Linked DNA regions of Homo sapiens: region 1 is linked to region 2. Evidence: fine-mapped expression QTL. A gene starts in region 2. The other region holds a variant in brackets. All regions are shown on one strand. Distances are from middle to middle.

Region 1 (13,017 bases), 110 kb before region 2:
AATGATCAGGTAACCACATATTGATGGTGATGGTCAAATGATCTATGAAGAGTTTGTACAAATGATGACAGCAAAGTGAACAACTTGTACAGAATGTGTTAAATTTCTTGTACAAAATTGTTTATTTGCCTTTTCTTTGTTTGTAACTTATCTGTAAAAGGTTTCTCCCTACTGTCTAAAAAATATGCATGGGGTGGGGCTCGGTGGCTCACGCCTGTAATCCCAGCACTTTGGGAGGCTGAGGTGGGCGGATCACGAGGTCAGGAGTTCGAGACCAGCCTGGCCAATATGGTGAAAGCCCATCTCTACTAAAAATACAAAAACTAGCCGGGCATGGTAGTGGGCACCTGTAGTCCCAGCTACTCAGGAGGCTGAGACAGGAGAATCGCTTGAACCCAGGAGGCGGAGGTTGCAATGAGCCGAGATCACACCACTGCACTCCAGCCTAGGAAACAGAGCAAGACTCCATCTCAAAAAAAAATTTAAAAATAGATAAATAAATAAATAAAAGCAAAAAAAAAAAACCTACTAGGGTAGAGATGACAGAGAGAGATAATACATGTTAATGAAAAATTCAATTGACAAGGAAAACTTAATGATCTCAAATGTGTATAAACCAAAAAACAGTCTTAAAATACATGAAGCAAAACTGATAGACTTAAAAGGAAAAACAGACAACTCCACAATTATTATTGGAAAATGCAACATGATCTTTCAGCAAGTGACAAAGCTACTGACAGTAAATTAGCGAGAATATAGAAGATCTGACTAATATAATCAACCAATCATGGAGTGACACATCACTCCACCCAATAAGCAGAGTACACTTTTTTTTCAATTGTTCATGGAAGATTCATCAAGATAGACCATGTCCTGAGCCATACAACAACTTCAACAAATGCAAAATAAATGAAAGTATACGTAGCATGTTTCCTGACAATATTGGAATCAAACAGATAATCAATAACGAAGACAACAGGAAACTCTCTAAACACAGAGAAATTGAACAACATAAATTTTAAATCATTGCTGGGACAAAGAGGAAAATCTCAAGTTAAAAATGAAACTTAAGGAATATGAAAATACAACATACCAAAACATGTTGGATACAGCTAAAGGATTTTTGAGAGCAAAACTGTAGCATTAAATGTTTACATTAAACATGAGAAAAGGACTCAAGTCAATCTAAGCTCCTACCATAAGGCACTAGAGAAAGCAGAGGAAAATAAACCCAAAGCAATCAAGAAGAAGGAGGTCAGGCTTGGTGGCTCACACCTATTATCCCAGCACTTAGGAAAGCCAAGGCAGGGAGGATCACTTGAGCCAGGATTTCAAGACCAGCTTGGGCAGCATAGCGAGACCTCATTTCTACAAAACATTTTAAAAATTAGGCATGGTGGTGTGTCCTGTAGTCCCAGCTACTCTGAGATAGGAGAACTGCTTGAGCCCAGGAGTTCAAGACTGCAGTGAGCTATGATCGCACCACTGCACTCCGGCCTGGGTGACAGAGTGAGAGTCTCTCTTTCTTAAAAAAAAGGAAGGAAATAATATAGAGATCAGAACAATAATTAATAAAATTAGAAATAAGAAATAGCAGAGAAGAAAATTTAATGAAGTAAAAGACGATTTCTTTCTTTTTTTTCTTTTCTTTTTTTTTTTTGAGACGGAGTCTCACTGTGTCGCCCAGACTGGAATGGAGTGGCACGATCTTGGCTCACTGCAAGCTCCGCCTCCCAGGGTCACACCATTCTCCTGCCTCAGCCTCCCGAGTAGCTGGGACTACAGGCGCCCGCCACCATGCCTGGCTAATTTTTTGTATTTTTAGTAGAGACGGGGTTTCACCGTGTTAGCCAGGATGGTCTTGATCTCCTGACCTCGTTATCTGCCTGCCTCGGCCTCCCAAAGTGCTGGAATTACAGGCATGAGCCACCGCACCCGGCCTGTTTCTTTTTTAAATCAATAAAATGTACAAACTTCTTTCAAGAGTCACAAAAATTAAGAGAAAACAGATATCACCAATATGAGGAATAAAACAGGGGATGTCACTTCATATCCTGTAGCCACTAAGATAATAAGAAAATATTACACAAAGTTTTATACTCTAAAACAGTTTTTTTACTGAAAACTTAGAAGTAATGAAGCCTTTTGAGGAACCACAAACTACCAAACACAACCAAGATGAAATAGATAATTTAGGTAGCCCTATATTAACCATTAAAGAAACTGAATTTATTTTAAAAAATCTCCTAAAAAATCCCAGGCCCAGATGGTTTCACTGCAGAATTCTACAAAACATTCAAAGAGATAACAATGCATTTTCACAATCTTTTCCAGAAAGAAAGAACAGTCCCCAACTCACTGTGAGGCTAGTATCACCCAAATATCAAAACCAGTACAAAAAAATAAAAACAACAACAAAAAAACAAAAAACTACATACCAATAGCTTTCATGAACATAGATTCAAAGGTCCTCCACAAAATATTAGCAAACTGAATAAAATAACAAAACATTACGCACTGTGACTATCTTAATTCAGGCTGCTGTACAAGAATATCAAATGTTGGGTGGCATAAAGAACAAACATTTATTTCTCATAGTTCTGGAGGTTGGGAAATTCAAGATCAAAGTGTTAGAAGTTCCAGTGTCTGGGGAGGGCACTCTTCTGGGTTTACAGATCACCCTCTTCTCACTGTATCCTCTCATGGCTGAAAGAGATATAAACTCTCTCATGTTTTGTCTTATAAGGGCACTATTCCCATTCATGAGGGCTCCACCCTCATGACCTCCCAAAGGTCCTACCTCCTAACACCGGGGAGTTAGAGTTTCGCATATAAATTTTGAGGGGACACAAACATGCAGTTCATAGCCTTGACCAATAGGGATTTATTCCAGGCATCCAAGGCTAGTTCAACATTTGAGAAATCTATGTAATCCACCAGATCAACAAGCTAAAAAGTCATATGATCATATCAATTGACACAGATAAAGCATGTAACAAATTCCAACACACATTCATGGTTTTTAAAAAAGGGCGGGGTGCTGGCTGGGTGCAGTGGCTCACGCCTGTAATCCCAGAACTTTGGGAGGCCGAGGCGGGTGGATCACTTGAGGTCAGGAGTTTGAGACCAGCCTGGCCAACATGGTAAAACCCCATCTCTACTAAAAATACAAAAATTAGCTGGGTGTGGTGGTGTATGCCTGTAGTCCCAGCTACTCGGGAGGTTGAGGCAGAAGAATCGCTTGAACCCAGGAGGCAGAGGTTGCAGTCAGCCGAGATCACACCACTGCACTCCAGCCTGGGAAACAGAGCAAGACTTTGTCAAAAAAAAAAAAAAAAGAAAGAAAGAAAGAAAGAAAGAAAAGGGTGTGGTGGGGGGTGGGCATGGTGGCTCATGCCTGCAGTGGCCCAATCTCGGCTCTCTGCAGCCTCTGACCGCCAGGTTTCAGCAATTCTCCTGCCTCGGCCTCCCGAGTAGCTGGGATTACAGGCACGTGCCACCACACCCATCTAATTTTTTTATTTTTAGTAGAGATGGGGTTTCACCATGTTGGCCAGGCTGGTCTCAAACTCCTGACCTCATGATCTGCCCGCCTCGGCCTCTCAAAGTGCTGGGATTACAGGCGTGAGCCACTGAGTCCGGCCTCCTATATCTTTATTTTCTAATTTCTTCTTTTTTTTTTAGACAGGTTCTCAATCTGTCAGCCAGGCCAGAGTGCAGTAGCACAATCACAGCTCACTGCAGCCTCAAACCCCTGGGCTCAAGTGATCCTCTGACCTCAGCCTCCCAAGTAGCTGGGACTACAGGTACACACAACCATGTTCTGCTAATTTTTTTTTTTTTTTGTAGAAATGGGGGTGTTGCTATGTTGCCCAGGCTGGACTTGAACTCCTGGCCTCAAGTGATCCTCCTGCTTTGGCCTCCCAAATTACTGGGATTGCAGTTGTGAGCCCAGTCTGTACCCTATTGCTTCCTATGTTCTTTGAGAGACAAATGTAGAAAACAGTAATTATAAAGTATGCTAATGGGTACACAATGTATAAAAGATGCAATTTGTGACAATAACAAAGCTGTATAGGAATAGATTTTGTGTATGCTACTAAAACTTAGTTGATACCAACTCAAACTGTATTTTTATATATTTAGGGTGTTTTTTGTAATCACCAGAGTACTCACAAAAAAATAATTAAAATATATACAGAAAAGACACTGAGGAAGGAATCAGAATGGTACACTTTAAAAAACACGAAAGACACAAACACAAAAGACAGTATTTGGGGAGCAAAAAGTATATGAAACTTGTAGAAAACAATAGCAAATGATAGAAATAATTGCTTTCTTATCAGTCATCACTTTAAATGTTAAAAAATTAAACTCACCATTAAAAGGCAGAGATTGGCAGAATGGATTCAAAAAATACATTTTGAGTTCAAAGAGACAAATATGTTGAAAGTAAAATATATTGAAATAAAATATATTGAAAGTAAAATAATGGAAAAAGATATTCCATACAAATGGTAACAAAAGGAGAACTGGGGTGGCTATGCTAATATCAGTCCAAATAGACTTTAAAATGAGGGATATTATTATATATTCATAAAAGGGTCAATTCACTACCAAGATGTAACAATTATAAATATATATTCACCAAACAGCAGAGCCCCATAATATGTGAAGAAAACGTTAACAGAAATAAAGGAGAACTAGTTCTACAATAATTATTGGAGATTTTAATAACCCACTTTCAATAATAGATAGAACAAAACAAAAAAAAGAGAAAAATAAAAATAACAGAACATCTAAATAGCACATGAATAAGTAAGTAGAGGACTTGAACACTGTAAATCAACTAGACCTACTAGACACATATAGAACACTCTACCAGCAGAGCAGAGTCCTCACTGTTCTCATACATGGAACATTCTACAGAATAGATCATACTTTAGGCCACAAAATAACGATAAATACATTTAAAATACTTAAATCATAGAAAGTATCTTCTCTGACCACGATGAAGGGAAGCTAGAAATCAATAACCAAAGGAAAATGGAAAATTCACAAATGTATGGAAATTAAACAACACACTCTTAAACAACCAATGGATCAAAGAAAAAAATCAACAAGGGAAATATGAAAGTACTATATAAATTAAATGCAAAACACAACCTACCAAAACTTACAGGATGCAGCAAAAGTAGTGCTCATAGGGAAATCATAGTTGCAACTGCCTACATTAAAAAAGAAGAAAGAGCACAAATCAATAACCTAACCCTATTCCTTAAAGAACAGGGGAAAAAGAAGAGTAAACTAAGGACAAAACTGGTAGAAAGAACAGTCTCTTCAATAAAAGGTACAGGACAACTGGATATGCACATGCAAAAGAATGGAATTAGACCCCCATCTCATACCATATACAAAAATTAAGTTGCAATGATTGGCCAATGACCTAAATATAAGAACTAAAACTATAAACTCTCAGAAGAGTTAGGGGTAAATCTTCATAACTTTGAATTTGGCCATGGAGTCTTAGATGTGACACTGAAAACACAAGCAACAAAATAAAAAATAAACTGGACTTTCTCAAAATTAAAAACTTCTGTTTGTCAAAGGATATTCTCAAGAAAGTAAAAAGACAACAACAGAATGGAAGAACATATTTGCAAATTATATATCTCATAAGGGTCTAACATCCAGAATATGTAAAGAATTCTTACAACTCAACAACAAAAAGACAACCCAACTTAAAAATGGGCAAAGGACTTAGACATTTTTCCAAAGATGATAAACAAATGGACAACAAGTACATGAAAAGATGCTCAAGATCATTAGTCATTGGGGAAATGCAAATCAAAACCACAATGAAATACAGCTTCATACCCACTAGAAATGGGTATAATTATACAACTATGGCTACTAAAAAGGATGAGATGGGGAAATAGCAAGTGTTGGTGAAGATGTCGAGAAATTCAAACCTTTGTACATTCCTGGTGGGAACGTAAAATGGTTCAGCCTCTAAGGAAAACAATTTGTTAATTCCTCAGTAAATTACATATAGAATTACCATATAACCCAGCAATGTCACTTCTAAGTATATATCCCAAAGAATTGGCAACAGGTATTTTAACAAATACTTGTACACGAATTAATGTTCATAGCAGCCCTATTTGCAATAGCCAAAAGGAGGTGGAAACATCCCAAGTGTCCATCAATTGATGAGTGAAAAAAACCAAAATGTGGCATATTTATTCAATAGAATATTATTCAGCCATAAAAAGGAATGAAGTACTGATACACTCTACAACAAGGATTAACCTCAAAGGCAAATAAAATGTTCACTTCAAAATTGTTAATTTTACATTATGTGAAATTCACCTCAATCACCAATTCCACACAGTGGAATTTCACAGTGAGCAAGCCTATGCAAACCAACCACTAAATTCCAAGGAAGCGGAGAATTCAAAGAAAGAGGCTTACATATCCAGTTTCTCAGGAAGAAACTTTCCTTCCTTCCTTCCTTCCTCCCTTCCTTCCTTTTCTTTTTCTCCTTCTCCTTCTCCTTCTTCTCTCTCTCTCTCTCTTTCTTGTTTTTTGAGACAGAGTCTCACTCTGTCACCAGGCTGGAGTGCAGTGGCATGATCTCAGCTCACTGCAACCTCCAATTCCCTAGTTCAAGCAATTCTCCTGCCTCAGCCTCCTGAGTAGCTGGGATTACAGGCATGCGCCACCACGCCCCGCTAATTTTTGTATTTTTTGTAGAGACAGGGTTGCACCATGTTGGCCAGGATGGTCTCGATCTCCTGACCTCGTGATCCGCCC[G/A]CCTCGGCCTCCCAAAGTGCTGGGATTACAGGCGTGAGCCACCATGCTCGGCCTCTTCTCTTGTCTTGTCTTCTCTTCTCTCTCTCTTTCTCTCTCTCTTTCCCTCTTTCTTTCCCTCCCTCCCTCCCTTCCTTCCCTCCTTCCTTCCCTCCTTCCTTCCTCTCTCTCTTTCCTTTCTCTCTCTCTTTCCTTCCAGACAGGCTCTCACTGTGTCACCTAGGCTGAAGTGCAGTGGCATGATCACAGCTCACTGCACCCTTGAACTCCTGGCTCAAGCAATCCTCATGCCTCAGCCTCTGTAGCTAGGACTAGAGACATGTGTCTCCATGCCCAGCTAACTTTTTTGTGTTTTGTAAAGGGAGGAGGGGGGTCTCACTATGTTGCTCAGGCTGGTCTTGAACTCTTGGCCTCAAGTGTTCCTCCTACTTTGCCTCCCAAAGTGCTGGGATTATAGGTGTGAGCCACTGCACCTGACAGAAACATTTAATAGTGACTTATGAATAGAAACCATGTCTGTGTCTCAGGTAGTGTGGAGACAGGTTGGTGGATCCCCACGCCATTACACCCAGAACCAAGGCCTATATACCATGGGGAAAGGGTATATGTGATACAGAAGTGATGTGTAGGAAAATTATTCAAGGGCAGGACTTAAGGTAAGTACATGATCTTACACAAGGAACAGTAAGCAAAATAAATAATTAAAAAAAAACCTTAGAGGCCTTTTTGGAAATGGGGTTAATCAGAACTCAATATGGCAGATCAACATCCAAGATGGAGTTGCTTTAGCCCCCACACTCCATCCCTCTTAATCTCACACACCCTCCTCTTCTGGGCCTTTAGGGAAAGTGCTTGACATTGCACAACTTTAGCAGCAGTGGGTTGGCAGGGAAAACAGATCAGACCCAGTAGCATTCCAAATTAGGGAGATTCACAGGCTTTGGTTTGTCATCTCTAGTCATTGGAATACCGTGACTTTGGTTTTCTTGGAAGAAGTAAAAGTAGAGATATATAACATTAATAATTTGAATAGTAGAAATATAATGCACACAAGGATTATAATAAAAAAGGGCATGAAGACAATTAAATCTCGGTTTTTCTTTAGAAATTTGTAGCCAGGAAATAATTCAGGATTCAGTTTGAATTATAGGCAAATAATAAAACTCAGAAACAATCATTAAGGCTACAGTCTAATAATGAGCATACTATAGTTTTCTTCTGAAACATAGTTTTTCTCAACAGTTTTCCCATTTCTACTAAGGATAAATCAAAGTAGGGCCAATTTACTTGTGAAATAAATTTAGTCTCATTAACTTGACCTGACTATTTGCATAAAGTGCAGGGATTGGCCATATTGGCTCCTTTTAAGATGGCTTCACTGGGACACTTTTCATAAGGAATCTCAGATTAGACTTCTATAAGCCCTGAGGCTAACCAAGTCAAGGATTCGCTATCCGATTGTGCCTGTCATACCTGTATGAATGGGTGTATTCCTCTCTTCTTGAGGCCCAAAAATAACTTGAGGTTCCTGGGCCTGCCAGAAAGTGACATTTTTTACTTACCAGAGGTAGGCTGGCCTTTCTGTGGGGGTTTTATCAGCTCTGCAACATCAGCCTCATTTCCTCAAAGCAATGTGGTCATATCTGAAAATATGCCATTCCAGTCAAGGCCTTGATAGAAGAACCTGTGTCTCCAATTGTGTCCTGTTACAAAAGAAAACAGATTCTTACTGAACTTATGCAAATAACTGTATTCCCATGTCATACGAATATATGAATAGTTTCCAGTTTTGGAGATATCAGGTAGAGAGACAGGTAAATTTTGTTCACAATAGTATACTTTACAATTAGAGTAGCAGCCTTCCAAACAGGATATTGTCCTTTCACCTTGGAACTGCCATCCACAAACCAAGCAGCTCTTTGTCAGTCAGGTGAGAGCTGTTTATTGGGCACTGTAGAATCCAGCAGCCCCTCACACAGTTTCAGAGTGACTCCTAGGGAAAAAGAGACTCCCTGCTCCTATCTCCTCCTTGCATCCTTCAAATAGCAGGATACTACACAAATCATTCCCATTTTATTGGTGGGACCCTTTTGGGTGCTGCTATCCTCATTAGAGTGTTTCTCTGACATTCAGACATTACTATTTCAGGTGTCAAGGCCATTTTATGCCCTTCAATCATAGCAGTAGCTTCAGCTAACATCCAATTACAAGGCAGCAAATACCCCCAAATGAAAATTCTCTAGTGAAGGTGCTCATAGACTTTTGCCATAAGCCCCAATAAAAATTCTACAAGGAGCTATCCAGTGGATAATTTGTTCCCTACCAGCACTTCAGCTTCTACTCTATACTTTGTGGGCTTGGTCAGTCTTACTGGTTCCCACTGAGCATGTCCAATTAGTATTGCTCAAAGGGAAGATTTACATGCTTTCTAGTTCACAGTACTAGGAAGGGGAATCATCCTCCAGTCATATACAATGTCCATTCCCAGAAAACATTTAGGTAAAGGAGACACAGCTACTTTACATAAAGCCTGTTCAAACATTTTAACTCTTAAAATCCTATTGACCCTTACATTTTATGTTGTAGTCCCAGGAAACTTTTTCTCCACCCTAGACCATTTTACCCTTTCTTGTGAAAAAGGATCTGAGTTCCCAACAGGGAGCTGAGCCAAGGCACTTGGGCTCATTGGTCAATCCTTATCTTGATTAACTGCCTCAACATTGCCCCAATTTTTGGTCAGCTTTCTCACTGTAATCTTTACCTTCTGATTTTTTTTCTTAAATTTCACAAATCTGGGGCAAATACAGAAAACTGATTTGGGCTCTATAATGTTTGTAGACAGGCAGGGCTCCCTCTTTGATAGTGTTGTATTAAGACCTTTGTTTTAACCCCATCAATTTGTTTTATTTATCCCATTTTTAATAACTATTTAAACATGTTTACCCTGCTGGGATGAGTCCCATGACTCTCCCCTTTCTTTTTCCTTTTAGTTTCACCCTTATCAATGCTCTCTGTATTCTTTTTTTTTTTTTTTTTTCTGACATGGAGTCTTGCTCTTGTCACCCAGGCTGGAGTGCAATGACGTGATCTTGGCTCGCTGCAACCTCCACCGCCCGGGTTCAAGCGATTCTCCTGCCTCAGCCTCCTGAGTAGCTGGGATTACAGGCGCCTGTCACCACGCCCAGCTAATTTTTGTATTTTTGTAGAGACATGGTTTCGCCATGTTGGCCAGGCTGGTCTCTAACTCCTGACCTCGTGATCCACCTGCCTCAGCCTCCCAAAGTGCTGGGATTACAGGCGTGAGCCACTGTGCCCAGACTATTCATCTTATTTCTTAATAAACATTTAAAAATTTACACCCTTCTGGGAGGAGTCTTTTGACTCTCTGCTCTAACCTTCACCATGTTCTTGTTAATTAACCTAACTTTTAAAATTAATACCTGTAAGACCCATCAAGGAAAGCTGAGACAACAAGTTTGATAAGGCTTCTAGGACTCTTGTTCCATTTTTCAGGAGTGATGTCATTACATGTGGTACCTTTCATGCGTGTCCGTGTGAAGAGACCACCAAACAGGCTTTGTGTGAGCAACATGGCTGTTTATTTCACCTGGGTGCAGGCGGGCTGAGTCCGAAAAGAGAGTCATCGAAGGGAGATAAGGGTGGGGCCGTTTTATAGGATTTGGGTAGGTAAAGGAAAATTACAGTCAAAGGGGGTTTGTTGTCTGGCGGGTAGGAGTGGGGTTCGCAAGGTGCTCAGTGGGCAGGAGTGGGGGTCGCAAGGTGCTCAGTGGGGGTGCTTTTTGAGCCAGGATGAGCCAGGAAAAGGACTTTCACAAGGTAATGTCATCAGTTAAGGCAAGGACCGGCCATTTACACTTCTTTTGTGGTGGAATGTCATCAGTTAAGGTGGGGCAAGGCATATTCACTTCTTTTGTGATTCTTCAGTTACTTCAGGCCATCTGGGCGTATACATGCAAGTCACAGGGGATGCGATGGCTTGGCTTGGGCTCAGAGGCCTGACAGTACCCGTGTAGAAGGGGTCCCCTTAACCACAGCATTTACCATAACCTGGGTAACAGGCATATTCAGTGGGTGAATATACTGGTCCTCATAAAGCCAATCCCACATGGCTTGCACATGCTTCATCTGAATTACCCAACTTGGTATTTACAGGGGGAGTTGAACAGACCCCCTTTTCGGGGTAAAAAGATCTTACAGTGGCTTTTATCCAGTCCACCAGCCCAGTTCTTCTCTCAGGAATAACCTATGTGTCTGGATCATATATATGAATCTGCAATTGTTCTATAGTGACCTGTGGGTCCTGCATCACCCAAACATGTTTTTCCACTGTGCAGCATTTCAAACCAAAGCCACTGCTTCCAAATTAGTTACTCTCATAATCCATTTTGGTAAAAGTTCCTCAGGGAGCTGCTGATACTGTTGTACAAAATGGAATGATTCCTTCATACTATACCCTATGGTTTCAACTGTTGCTTGCTTTTGCCCTTCTGCCACATTGACTACCCACAAGTATCAAAGGTACTTTCTGTTGTGCTGGCATACTTTTTCTCCCTTGTGGGTAGATTTGAGGCTAAGAATCTGAGCTCAGACAGACCCATATCTGAGGTTGGTCCAGGCTCAAGCCCCAACCAGGCACTCTCTTTTACTTTCATTTTAGCTTTTATAGATAACAATAACTAAAAGGAAAATAAAATCTTAAGTCCCCCAAATCACAATGCCAAAGGTAAACATAAAGCTTGGGAACAGATTCATGCAAAAATGGCCTTCCTTTTGTTCCTAAACAGAAAGCTGCAATGATAGAAGGCCACATCTCTCTCCAGGTAGCCTCCCTCACAAATTTCTCTCAAGGAAATTCCTTGTGGGCCCCCAAATCTGTCAGAATAAATATCCCTTCAATAACCCTAAAACCCTCAATGCCACACGAAGCACCTAAAAAAAAAGTATCAAGTATCATAGGATAGAACATGGGCCTAGAACCCCTATATGCTCACTGTTCAAGCTGGCCCTGCAGACTGGTCAGTTCTGCAGTTCGGACTATACCAAGTACCTGTTAAGACAAATTTTGCTGTGGGCCCCTGAAATAAAATTGGATGAGGTTTCCTTCTCATTTTGTTTTATGTCCTTGAAAGCTTGACTTTCTTACCAAGTGGGAGTACTCTCTTAGTCTCCACTATCTGGAGGGCAGGAATTTTCAGGTTCACATCAGGAAGCCAGTCTGCAAAGACTGGGAATCCAAGACATCTAATATTTTAAGCAGTACACTTTTTGTTCCAAATGTGTCAACTTCTTAGGGAAGTTTTTTCTTAAAAGATCTCATCCCTATGGGGTTTTTGTCATCTTTTGCTATCTTAAATCTATTTCTAAGAGTGAATTTTTAGGGATCATGGGGACTGCCTCCCTTCTGCCCTCTCCAGGAATGTAAAAACTTTTTCTAAACCTAGAAAATTATGACCTGGGCTTTACAGAGAGATTTTTGGATTGAGTTGCTAGGGAAAACCAAATTTTAAAAAGGACACATAATAGTGTAATGGCTAGTCTTGAGAATTCGGTTGAGCAAAATCTAACATAAAAAAAGCTTAAAATCTTTGAAAGCTCAAAATTGCTTTAGATTCCCTCTAGGAAAAACAATGGACACCACCCCATGATGTAGTTCAGTAGCTAAGGTTCTTCCCTTTTCACCTTGGTGACCTGGGTTTGTTTTCCGGCCAGAGAATGAGTCCTTTCTGGTTTGATATTTGTATGACTTTTCAAATACCAGCTGTTTGTTATGGCAAAAATCTGGTGATAAGAGTTTCAAAGTTGTGTTTTTTTGTTTGTTTGTTTTTTGTTTTTTTAAAAAGAGCTCAATAGTCAAAAGTAGACTTAACTAAAACTGATATCTAGGGTATATATGTATACACACACACACACACACACACACACACACACACACACACACTAGTTTTAAGCCTCTGTTCTCTCTTTGTAAAAACTTTTTGTCAGCTAAATTGTTTCTCCGTTTACTTCTGCCTGTCCCTCCTTTCTCTTGCCACCCTCAATGCCATACGAAGCACCTAAAAAAAAAAAAAAAAAAGAAGAAAAAAAGGAATTTCTGACAGCCTGGGATCCACTGGGGAGACAGAAAAGGCACCAAAGACTTCTCTGTTTGAAAGAAATCTGTTTTTCTTCATGTCATCCCAGGAG
Region 2 (12,671 bases):
ATAGAAAAATTAGCAAATAAACAATCTAAATTACCTCACTGATCCTTTTTGCCACATTTTCCTTATGATTCTTTCCTCTTTCATGAAATTCAACACTCTTGAAAATGAAAAGAGAAAATAACAAAAGAAAACTACATAAACATCATAAAATTCATAGTAAACATAATTTTCTCATAAACATGAGAAAATTAAAATTAAAATGAATGGCAGAAAAGATGAAAACATTAATTTAATGCAAATTGGCCCTTTTAATCAAATGATGCTAGGGAACTACATTGTTTATTATTATGTCCTCTGACTAGGTTTCCTTTGGTTCTTAAAATAAACCATGATGACCTTATTAATGGAGAAAAATACAAGGTACCCTTGATGACTAATCTAGTGACTATGATTGTAATGAGGACTCAAACGTGACATGAAGCCAAAAGACTGGGGAAAAAAATCTTAAACAACTTTCAACATCAAAAGCCTTTAGAATTTTATTGCTCTATTTGTCACAAGGAGGGACATAGAGAACAATGATTTTATTGCTTTATTCCTTAAATTTAGGAGAAAAGTATGTATTTTAAGATTCCTCGTAAATTATAAGCAAACACTTTTATACAATGTGGTAATGGTTCAAAATGTACAACTTCTATGGAGGATAATTTGGCAATATCTATCAAGACTACAAATACATTTACCCTTTGACACAGCAATTTCATTTCTGGTAATTTATTCTATAGATATACCTGCACATGTACAAAATCATGATATACACAAGCTTACTGACTGCAGCACTGTTTGCAATAACAATACGGTATCCATCTCTAAGGGACTGACTGGTTAAACTATGGTACATTCTCATAGTCTACTGTAACAGAGAGAAAGAAGCTCTTTATGTATGGATACAAAGGGAGCTCCAGTTACATACTGTTAAATTTTTTAAAACTAGTGCAGAATAATATATACAGTACATTACCTTTTATGTATGCTGGAATAAGAACTTGTGTCTACATGCATGTAGAAACAATGGAAGGATAGGCAAGAAAATGAAAAAAAAAAATGATAACCTATGGGGAGTGATGGCCACTAGATGACTGGGGACAGGGGCTGGTGAGTGAGCGCAATTATCTATTTAAACAATCAGAAATGCTCCCTAAATTACAAGTTTCTAGTTAAATGCAGTAAGAAATTCCTCACAAGCTCTGCAAAATAAGTTCTGTCAATCAAATCTTACATGATGCATTAACTGAGCTATTTTAAAATACTACCATGAATTCATCTTTAAAGTGTGACTTTGTAAAGCAGATAATCCTCCTGTTTTTCATACATTGCGTTTCCTAAAGTTGATTACACTACACAAAGAATACAATATTAAAGGACCATTCAAAATTAAATTAATTTTGTTTCTAATTAAAGGTTAAATCAATGTGTATTACCAACTCAAGAAGATAAAGACAGACTACACTGGAAGGGATTACTTACTCTAGATAACTCACAAAATTCATTTTACAGCCTAGGTACCTCCAAGAAAGAGAGACTTTAAGTGACCTGTGTGGTTTTAAAAATTCATGGTATTTATTTATAAGGATAGCCTAGGTAAAATAGTGAAGAACTTTAGCAACTATCCAAAAAGACCAAAACATCAAAAAAAAATCCAAATCCTAAACACCTTGCAGGTAACAGGAAATAAATGTCTACAGAAGAAATCCACAGCATTGTTAAAATATGAGACTACTATTCTTTGTGCATCCAACTTTGCCAAGTAAAAACGGTATCAACATAAAATATATTTAACAGATACCCTAGTGTTTATGTGGTATGTACATAGTATTTTGACATGCAAGAGGGGAGAAAAATCAGCGGTGTGCTTTTTGCTTTACATCTTCAAAACTGGATCTCAACTATGAGACAGACTAACAACATACCTAACAGAGTTGTTACTTTGTTTCATGAGAAAGGAAATAATGGTGTTCTTTCAAATTTAAGCATCTAAAGATACACAGCTCTGCATTAAATACACTTGATTATTTCTAGACCACAAAATATACAAGAAAAACTAAACATGTTGCTTTTATTTTTTAAGGGCTTTCCACAATTCTTTGGGTATGACAGTATTATGAACACCACCATTATAATATAGGTGCTTCATAACATGAATGATATGACCAACTCATTGCCCATTTCCCAAAAGGCCACAGAGAAATAATTTAATATATAATCAAAGTCAGGTTGATGAAAAGGAAGAAGGCTCACAGCTTTCATAGGGGACTGAGAAGACAGAAATCTTCTGATGTTTTGAAAATGCAAGAGCAATGTACATAAAAGTGCTTTGTAAACTGAGTTTACATCAAAAAGGAGCACTTCATTCAACACAATTATTATTAGAATCTCTAACAGCGGAATTATCATACAGGCCTATTGTCTGCTATCCAGCACTTGCAGTAATCACAGAATTTCTTTGGCTGTGACTTCCAGTAGTCCGCCCTGAAAAAGAGAGACAACAAGGCTAAGCTCATGTAAAACTTAAAAAAGGTTAAATTCTGCATGCTTTACAGTTTTTAAAGTTTGAAATATATGCCCCTGCTACTGAATCTTGTCTTGTTATGTATAGTCGTTTTATTATTTATCTGGTTGGAGCACAGTCAATTGAAATTCTGTTGCCAGCGGAGTAGAAAAAGTCTGTATCTGATTCATTACAAAACTCCCTTCAATAAAATGGCTTTCAAAAATTCCTCACTTGTTATCGTCATCGTTATGAAAAACTAAGGAACATCTTAGAAGAACATTTATCCTTTCTGGCTTTGGGGGAGGTTGCTGTAATGGAAACCTGAAGAAACTCATAAAGTTTGCCTTAAATCAAGTTATTCCCACCAAGAGAACAACGTACAAGACTACTCTGGGGAAAACTGTAGTTCCTCCCAGACTCTCAGTTAAAACAAACTGTTCTTGAGCCTCAAGGCAAGAGAGAACTGGAAAAGCCATGGGACTTCGTAGACGGCCGACAAAAAAAAAAAAAAAAAAAAAAAAAAAACCATTACGCTATCCAGGGCTGGCCGCTTCCAGTGGGCGGGGGAGGCCGCAGCCCAGCCCTAGTTTCACAATACCCTAGGGTTCAGGGGCTTCGGAAACCCAAGGGGTGCATGCGACCCCCGACAGCGTCGTAGAGAGAGCACTGCGTCGCTTCACCCGCGGCCGTCCAACCAGCCCCCTGAACCGGCCGCCGGCCTCCCCCTAGAGCCCGTGCCCCATACCCCAGGGCGTTCAGCGGGGTAACATTTCTACCCCGCCCTGAGAACCGGCCCTGCAGGTCTGGGGCCGGTCCCGAGCGAGTTAAGAACGCGTCTGTCACGCCCCCGGCCGAAGGGCGGGAGGAGAGGAGGGGAAGACCCGGGCGAGAAAGGGCGGCCCAGAGAAACAACACCTCGTTGTTCAGGGCCTGAGACCCAACTCACATGACTGCGCCAGCCGCTCTGCAAGTCGTCCAGGGTTCCACTCAGACTCGCGCTTTCCCAGCGGGACGAGTCGAGCTCTTCCAGCCGCCCGATGCCCACCCGAACCTCCCTCCGATCCAGACACCTTACTCAGTCCCCGGGACCAGCGTTCCGCTGTTCCCAACTACGGGTGCCCAGACGATCCAATCCGCGTTCGAAATCGCCTCCTCTCCCCTCCCCCTACAGGGGCGGTACTCCCGGCTCCAAAGAGGTGGGGTCGGTATAAAGGGGTTGAGGTCACCGGGAAGGGGTAAAAGCGCGACGGGACCTGAGCTGAAGGACGGGATCTCAAGCCTCAAGTCCCTGCGCCATCCCGCCGTCTCTGTGTCCTCCCCTGGGGCCCAAAACCTCCATCCTCCTTCTAGGCTCGCTGGCTCAAGGCCAAGGAGCTCAGCGCGCCGCCTCCGCCCGGAACGCAAACAGCTGTTCCCAGAGACGTCTCCGCTCTCAACTTTGCCAACTACTCCGCACGCACTTTGACCAGCGGAGCAACCGGGACCTGTGGGTCGGGGTCCTCTGGCGGAGTTAAAAAAAAAAGAGGTGAAACTGCGGGACCGGCGCTGCGAGTCGCTAGGCTTCGCCTCAAACTTTGCTGTTGCAGCGGAGCGGCCCCGCCCCTCCTCTCCCCTACGACGCCCACGCGCTCGGATGGGGCTTGTTCCCTAGCTCGGGAGCGTGTGGGCAGCAGCAGCGGCGGCGGCGGCGGCGGCGGCGGCGGCGGCAGCAGCAGCTTCAGTAGCGCAGAGGCGGCGGTGGCGAGAGGTGCGGCGAAGGAGGCAGAGGCACTTATGCTTGTCAGGTGGGTCACGGCAGTTTCTCATAGCACTTCCCATATGGTCTAGCGGTTAGGATTCCTGGTTTTCACCCAGGTGGCCCGGGTTCGACTCCCGGTATGGGAACGCTTCCTTATTTTTCTTTTTTTTTGCAACTATCGGTTTGGAGGGCTGACTTTTTAAATCTTGTGTTCTGGCTCCTTTCTTGTCCCCGTCTGGGTGAGTTTGTAGAAAATAAGCATTACTGTAGTTAGTGGCGCCAGGAGCTGGGCTGCGGCTTTTGGAGCCTCGAGTGCCACGCCGTGCCTGCTGGAGAAGCGAATGCGCTTCCGATCCTTCTCCCTCCCGCCTCCGGCTCACGGGGCTGGTGGGCCCTGAGGGAGTTTCACTTTCCCCTGGGCTGCTCCCCCGCCCCTCCGGCCCGTAGTTTTCCAGACGCCCGGGAGGTGATGATTAACTCCGGCCTTGCGTTATCTCCTCCCAGCGCCCCCGTCCGGCCCACACCCTCTTCAGCCGCTCTTGCGACTCTTCCTATGCAGGACGGGCTGACCCCCCTGCCCTGGGCGCCCCAGAGCCCGCGCCCGGACCAGTAGCTCTAGTGGTTCTCTGGCCGCAGGGTATTTACGAGGCCCCACGGAACACAGTGTGCCTTCCGCGCCCTCCCGGGGGGACGCGCTTTCCCGGCCGCGCAGCCGCCCGGCGCCCCTTTCCGCCGCGTGTGCGCTCGCGTCTCCACCCGCGGCGCCTGAGCAAGCGCGAGGCCGGCCTGCGAGGTCTTCCCAACTTGACTTAAGGGGCGCTGGTCGCAGTCACGGAAAGTACCCTCGAAAAAAGGCCTTTGGGAACGAGAATCTTTTTTCTTTCCCTTTAAAAATACACACCACGAGCTATGGAGGAGAAAAATACCACTCTGATGAGATGGCTTTAAATAAGTATATCGACTTTCCAAAGGGTCTAACATTTTGAGCGCGGTTGATTTAAAGAAAAAAATTGATTAAAACAACGGCAAAACATCCTGGGGTGGAGGTGGGGCTTGGGAAAGAGAAAATTGGCTGGAGACTGGGGAGGGGACGTTAAAACAAAGTTTCACTGTATTTTTAAATATAGAAGCCCTGTGTTTATTACAAAGAAGGGACAGCTGTGTCAGCAGCATGTGAGCTGTAAATGAAACAAAAGCGTTATCTTAAATGCAAGCTGAAATTAGAAAATAGGGTCGGCTATAATGTTTATTGGGCCTCTGGGAACAAACGAAGAAGGAAAAAGTGACTCTTGTAGATGGGTTTCTGGTCAGTGCCATTACTGAAAGCAGATGTTTTGGTTGTTAGTATGTGTGTTCCCAGACTATTTTGTAGCTTTAACTGCACAGTAAATTTGTTAATGTGATCTGCGTGATTAAGGATTAATTAGGCTTACCTTGTTAAAAAGAAAGAAAAAGCCTAAGTATTTTAAATCGTCTTCATTAATTCAAATATTTGTGTGTTTGCTACACACCAAGCACCACCACATGCTTTTGAAGTTACTGATGTTTGTATTCTTTATGTTAGCTAGTGGATAGAATACTGAATGGAATAATATTTTGGTCTTTGTGATTAGCTGTGTGATGAGACTTTTCACCTTCTCTGTTCTCTGGCTTTAGAGCCATACATTTTTGATAACACGTATCACTCACAAATTTTAAATAGAGTTACAAGAATTGTTGAGCGATTCCTGAATAGATAATGAAAGTGGAATTTTCATTTAAATAAGTAATAGTGTGTCATTATTAAGAAGCAGTTACTAAAGAATTACAGTAGTTGAAAATTTGGAAAGAAGGAAAGATAACTCGGATAACTCTGCCTTAATTGTCCCCAGAGAGGGCTTAACTTTTGACTTTTTCTTCTTTTTTTTGTTGAGACGGAGTCTCGCTCTGTTAACCCAGGCTGGAGGGCATTGGCGCGATCTCAGCTCACTGCAACCTCCGCCTCCCGGATTCAAGCTATTCTCGTGCCTCAGCCTCCCAAGTAGCTGGGACTACAGACACCCGCCACCACGCGTGGCCAATTTTTGTATTTTGAGTAAAGACAATGTTTCACCATGTTGGCCAGGCTGGTCTCGAACCCCTGACCTCAGGTGATCCACCCACCTCGGCCTCCCAAAGTGCTAGGATTACAGGCATGAGCCACCACGCCAGGCCTTGACCTTGTATTTTGTAATGAGTTTACAACATTGTACCAAATGGTGCTAAAATGGATGTTATTTTCAACTGTGCACTCAGTAATTGCAAATAGTTGTACTATATACCTGGGGGTGAACACAAAGGAAGTAGTTGCATCATCTCTGTATAAAACACAGATTTATCTTTCGTGTAGTTGTGCATTACGTAGAATATGGTAAGGCAACATCTGAGTTGTAGAAGTGCTACTGGAGTAACAGAGGTGAGGAATCGGTTCTGCTCAAGGGAGAGGACTGGAGAAGAGACCTAGAGGGGAGAGTGGACCTTGAAGAACTGATTGGATTTCTCCTGTTGGGGAATGTGAATCATAAAGCTGAGGTAGGGGGAACAAGTATGAGGCTGGCAAGTAGTCGGTTTGGCAGGAGCACAGAGTGCCTGCAGGGAGGGCCATGGGAGATCAAGCTGGGAATGTAGAAAGGAATTTTAACTTGATAAATTTTGACTAGGTAACAGGTTCTTTTATCAAGGAGTGACATTTTATGTCACAAAAATTTTTAAACCATTTCTGTCTCTTGGAAAACCCAAAGGTAGCAGTGGCATGTGAAAAATTCTTGTTTTAAAAGATTCAAACAATAAAGAAACATGTAGAATATTTTGTGTCCGTACATTTTATGTTTAGGAGTTGAATATTAATTTGTAATTAATAGAATGGAGAAAAGCAATCAGTTAATTAGAATTCACTTTATAGGAATGAAATCTAGGCTTAAAGTGTGAGAATAATCTGTCTTGCTTTGTTGAAAGTGACCTTGGTATTCGAAGACAGAGCTGCTCACTACTGTCAGTAAGACGTATATCTTAAATTGATTAAGGCTAGGTAATCAGTTTGTGAGGATTCATTCTTAACGCTTGTGCCATTGGCAGGCATATTTTAGGTGCTGTCTCTTGGGCCATAAATTAGTGACACTGAGTGCTGTGGATTTACCCAAATAACCTCTTTAATATTTGCTACTGTTAGGTGTAATTAGAAGATACATGAAAGAGGCAGGGTGTGGTGGCTTATGCTTGTAATCCTAGCACTTTGGGAGGCTGAGGCAGGTGGATCAACATGGCGAAATCCCATCTCTACCAAAAATACAAAAAATTAGCCAGGCGTGGTGGCACCCGCTGCACCTGTATCAGCTATTCAGGAGGCCAAGGTGGGAGGATCACTTGAGCCCTGGAGGCAGAGATTGCAGTAAGCCAGGATCTCAGGATCGTGCCACTGCACTCCAGCCTTGGAGACAGAGAGAGACTCCATCTCGGGGTGGGGGGAAAAAAAAGAGAAAAAGTGAGAGAGCCTGGACAACATAACAAGAGCCTGTCTCTACAAAAATAAAATTAAAAAAAAATTAGCCAGGTGTGATGCCACATGCCTGTAGTCCTAGCTACTTGCAAGCCTAAGGTGGGAGGATCCATTGAGCCCAGGAGTTCAAGGCTGCAGTGAGCTGTGATGTTGCCGCTACACTCCAGGTGACAGAGCAAGACCCTAAGACCTTATCTCTTAAAAAAAAAAAAAAAAAAGACGTGAAAGTTCAGTAAATGTTTGCAGAGATGAACGCTGGTATTTAAAGAAGTAGAAGGGATTTTAAAGCAATTACTGCATTTCAGCTAAAATCCGAAGACCTTATCATGGTCTCATAGGTCCAACATTATCTGGACTTTACCCATCTAACCTCAGGTCCTACCTTATCTACCACTTCACTGTATCTTGGCTACGTAGGCTTCCTTTTTGCCATGCCAAACTTATCCTTGTCTCGGAGTTTTGTTTCTTGCCTTTTTCCTTTGCCTGGAATATTCCCCCTGTAGCTCTGCACATCTCAGGTCAACATTACCTTCTCAGATCTTTTCTGACCACTTTAGCTTGAGACTTCCTCTTCCTTGGTTACTTTCTGGTTACTTTATGACATTTTTTTCATTTTCTTAGTATCTGAAATTAACCTGTTTATTTGTTTCTGTTTATTTCTTGTCTTAGTCTGTCAATATAAGTTCCCTGAAGGCAAGGATATCATATGAGATCGTTCTTGTTCTGTATGTAGTAAAGATTCAAACAATAGTAAAGAAGTTGGAACCCTTATACAGTGCTGCTGGAAATGTATAATGGTGCAGTTGCTTTGGAAAACAGTTTGGCAGTTCCTCAAAATGTTAAACAGTTACCATATGATCCAGTATTTCCACTCCTAGGTGTGTACCCAGTAGAAATGAAAACATGCCCACACCAAACCTTGTATACAAATGTTTATAGCAGCATTATTCATAAGCAAAAAGTAGAAACAACCTGAATGTCCCTCAACTGATGAGTGAATAGGTAAAATGTAGTGTATCCACACAGTGGAATATTTGGGAATAAAAAGGGATGAGGTACTCAATCACAAGAACATTACACTAAGGAGTCAGGCATGAAAGACCACATTTTTATTCCATTTATATGAAATATCCAAAATAGGCAAATCTATAGAGAAAGAGGGAAAATTAGTGGTTGCCTTGGATTAGAGGGGATAGGGAGGTTTGGGGTGAGGTGACTGCCAATGTGGATAGTAAATTTAGGGTGATTGAAAGTCCTGAAATAGATTACAGTGATAGTTCTATAACTCTATAAATGCACTAAATAATGTTGAAGTGTACACTTTAAATAGATAAACTTCATGATATGTAAGTTTTATCTCGACTAAACTCTTAAAAGGGATTGAAGCAATAAAAAGCATATAGAATATTTTCTCTCTTGATTTTACATTTATCATTTGGATATTACCTGTTTTAAAATAATAGCAGCCTGGGCAACATGGTGAAACTTCATCTCTACCAAAGAAAAAAAAAAACAAAAATTAGCTGGTGTGGTGGTGCGTTCCTGTAGTCCCAGCTCCTCAGGAGGCTGAGGTGGTAGGATTGCTTGAACCTGGGGGGTTGAGGCTGCAGTGAGCTATGATCGCACCACTGAACTCCAGCCTGGGCAACAGGGTGAGACCCTCTCTCTAGAAAATAAAAATTAAAATAATAATGGAATAATTTAATGGGGAAACTTCAGCTCCTAGTTAGTTCCACAAATGTGGTAAGTGCTTATTAAATAACTGATGGAGGAGGTTAGGTAAGTATACAGATAATTATGATACAATACATAGTTTGATAAATGCTCAGAGGGGACTAAGCCAGGGGTCATAAGTGTTTGATAGTGTTCAAAATCCATATCTGAGTTTGTGTGAGGGGAATGAGGAAAGGCCTCCTGTAGGAGGCAGCATTCGAGATAAGCTTTGAAGGCTGGTTAGGCTTTTGCTGGTAGAGACAGGGATGGGGACAAGGCATTGAGAGGAAGCAAGCAGGAGCAGAGGCATGTCAACAGTTACTAGCACATTTTAATGGAGCTGAGGGTGCAGGTAGGATAGGAATGGGAAATAAGGCTGCGAAAATAGATTAGGGTCTGTAGTGGACAATGTGTTTTTACTATCCTCCTGATGCCTAGTGTGCCTCCAATGGCTCATACTTAGGAAGAACGATACCTCTTACCTGCAGAGAGCTGGAAGTGTCTGGGGACATATCCTCCTCCCGCTCACAGACCACTGTCAGGAGTGTAACTTTGGAGCAGGGGCTTTGACTTGTTTCCCTCTGTATCATCAGACTTGAAGCAGGGCTTGGCACCTGGTAAACATTCAGAAAACATTTGAATGAATGAATGAAAATCAAGAAGTGGCAAGCAAGGTCTATTTAAAGCAAAGCAAAGTTTATTTTACGAAGCCCCTTGACAAGGAGATTTTGGAAGCCTCTTGGATTTGGAGCTAAGGAGTTTAGTTAGGAAAAGAGATTTCTGGTAATACGAGGAATGTTTTAATGAAATGAATTTGGTAGTAACGTGCAGGTTGAACTGGTGGATGGAAGGATTATGTCTGTGCTCCCCATCTCCACTGTCCCTTTCCTGTTCCCACTCCATTAGGCCTTGACAAAGGTCAAGGACTTCCCGCAGTCCAATAATAATCTCCTAACATCTCTCCTTGCTTCTACTCTCTCCCTAAATAGGGTGGTGGCAGCAGAATAGAAAGGATCAGATACAACAGATAACACTGAAGGAAAAAATCTACGACTTCAGAAAGTAAATATTTCTAAAAGAAATAGAGAAGTTATGAAGCACAGATTTTATTGCAGCGGACTGGCAGTTTTTACTCTTAGGGTTGGCCAGCTAGTAAATTTATTGCATACCTGCGTGTGTCTGTGGCTTTCGAACTCTGAAATTGTGCATTGACTCCATGAACAAGTTAATACTGTGAGACTGCCACCCTGTGGACAAAATATCAGGACTAAAACCATCAAGAATTAAAGTTTCATTCATTTGCGATTTACTGTTTTAGAACTGGCTTTGGTTCTTCCACGTTGGTGCATGCAGTGATGCTCATTAAATAGAAAGCTTGAAATTAATTTTTTCTCTGAATTTTTTCTGAGGCTTTTAAATAAAGGGAATCTAAAATGGAACCAGTAGTTTTAAAAAGCTGCAATGATTCAAGAGTGGTTTTTAGATGGTACTTCTTTGCTCTAGAAATTTCATATGGAAGGGTTGGTTTTTTAAAATATTGTGGCATGTAGGCCTGTTGTGAAATGGTCATTTATCCCTTTTGTTGTACTGATTTTTTTCATCCCATTTTATAAGACATATGGTATTATCCTTGAGAGTTATATTTTTTGAGAAATATATCAAACATCCCCCCACACCCTTTTTTGGCTAAGTGAAAGTGGCCTTCTTGCCTCGTTTTTTTGTGGATTTGGTTGTAGTTGTTAAAAGTTCTCTACGTTTTGGATGGATTGCCTTAATTGTATTTATACAAATGAGTTTGGTTTATATTACGCTACTTATTTAGAAGGACACTCTGCTCACAAATTATACTAGTTTGGTAGTTTCATAAACTAGCTTGAATCAAAATAAAATGGTGATTGTGAAATACTTATTTGCTCACTGCAACTCAGGAAATGTTTCAGTTTTGGACTCACGACCAAATAAAACTTTCCTAAGAGATGAGCTGTTTACAGCCAATAATGTTATAAATATCTTACACACTTGAATTCCCAGAGGTGTCAGAAGGGGTGGGGTAGCCATTTAGGGCTTGAAATTTGTGTCACCAGTAAAGCAGAAGTGGGTTGAAGCAGCCATCTGGGGTCAGCAATTGTGCCTTATTTAAGAAGGTGATATCCACACTGAGGAGAATGGATGAATCATTGATTGACCCCCTTGCCACTGATACTTCACCATAGAGACCTGGTACTTTACCATAAGGACCTTACGTTTTGGTAATGTACTAATGGTCAAATATAATGTTAATGATCTTAATTTTTTTTTTTTTTGAGACGGAGTCTCAGTCTGTCACCCAGGCTGGAGTGCAGTAGCATGATCTCGGCTCACTACAAGCTCTGCCTCCCGGGTTCAAGCAATTCTCATGCCTCAGCCTCATGAGTAGCTGGGATTCCAGGCGTGCACCACCATACCCGGCTAATTTTTGTATTTTTAGTAGAGATGGAATTTCACTGTATTGGCCAGGCTGGTCTGGAACTCTTGACCTCAAGTGATCCTCCTGCCTCAGCCTCCCAAAGTGCTGAGATTACAGGCGTGAGCCACAGTGCCTGGTGATTTTAATTATTTAAATATTTCTCTGAGTCAGTTCTGAAAAATGTAGTGTGACAAATGCAATAAACTTTAAGTGTTCGGTTTTATTTAACTTTTTCAAAGTAAATATATGGAGTTGTGGGTAACTTTTCAAAATTATTTTTTGCTAACACATATGTCTCACATTCTACAAACAGTGCTGTGTAATTGTAAGTGAAGTAGACTATGATGAAAGTGCACGTTTATGTAGGTTTACAAGGTAAATTGCCATATAATGTAGATCATTTAGATTAGGTTAGTATTATTTAGATACAGTTTAAGAAAAGTAGCTTACTTTCTTAAATTTATTTTTAAGTATTTACTCATTTATTTATTTATTGAGACAGGGAGTCTCTCTGTCTCCCAGGCTGGAGTGCTGTGTCATGATCATGGCTCACTGCAACCTCTAAATGCTGGGTTCAGGTGATCTTCCCGCCTTGGCTTTCTAAAGTGCTGGGATTACAGGCGTGAGCGACTGTGCCTGGCCAAGGAAGGTAACTTTCAAAATACTTGGTGATCTATTTACTCTTCACCTAGGTATTGAATGAAGAGTCAATAAACTTAAAGATATATTTGTTTTCTAGTCTTCTTTAATGGTTTTGCTATGATATCCT

The links. PIP is the estimated chance that this variant, and not a neighbour inherited with it, causes the effect. A credible set is the group of variants that fine-mapping cannot tell apart.
Region 1: its variant is the best candidate, but not a certain one, in a credible set for the expression of WBP4 in tibial artery (GTEx, PIP 0.55).

The regions. Positions count from the first base shown.
Region 1 is chr13:41,157,762-41,170,778 of GRCh38, reverse strand. KBTBD6-DT (KBTBD6 divergent transcript) reads right to left here. Exons shown (of 4, transcript NR_120423.1): 3 at 8,376-8,516. It also overlaps the pseudogene CALM2P3. Among named protein-coding and RNA genes, the nearest start is that of KBTBD7, 30 kb to the left of the region's middle. The variant G/A (reference allele first, on the strand shown) is at 6,817.
Region 2 is chr13:41,052,442-41,065,112 of GRCh38, reverse strand. WBP4 (WW domain binding protein 4) reads right to left here and starts at 3,604. Exons shown (of 10, transcript NM_007187.5): 1 at 3,438-3,604; 2 at 2,397-2,469; 3 at 35-97. The coding sequence starts at 3,439. TRE-TTC1-2 (tRNA-Glu (anticodon TTC) 1-2) reads left to right here and starts at 4,304; the gene lies at 4,304-4,375. It also overlaps a transcript of ELF1 not described here. RefSeq lists a silencer at 4,810-4,989 and an enhancer at 11,425-11,474.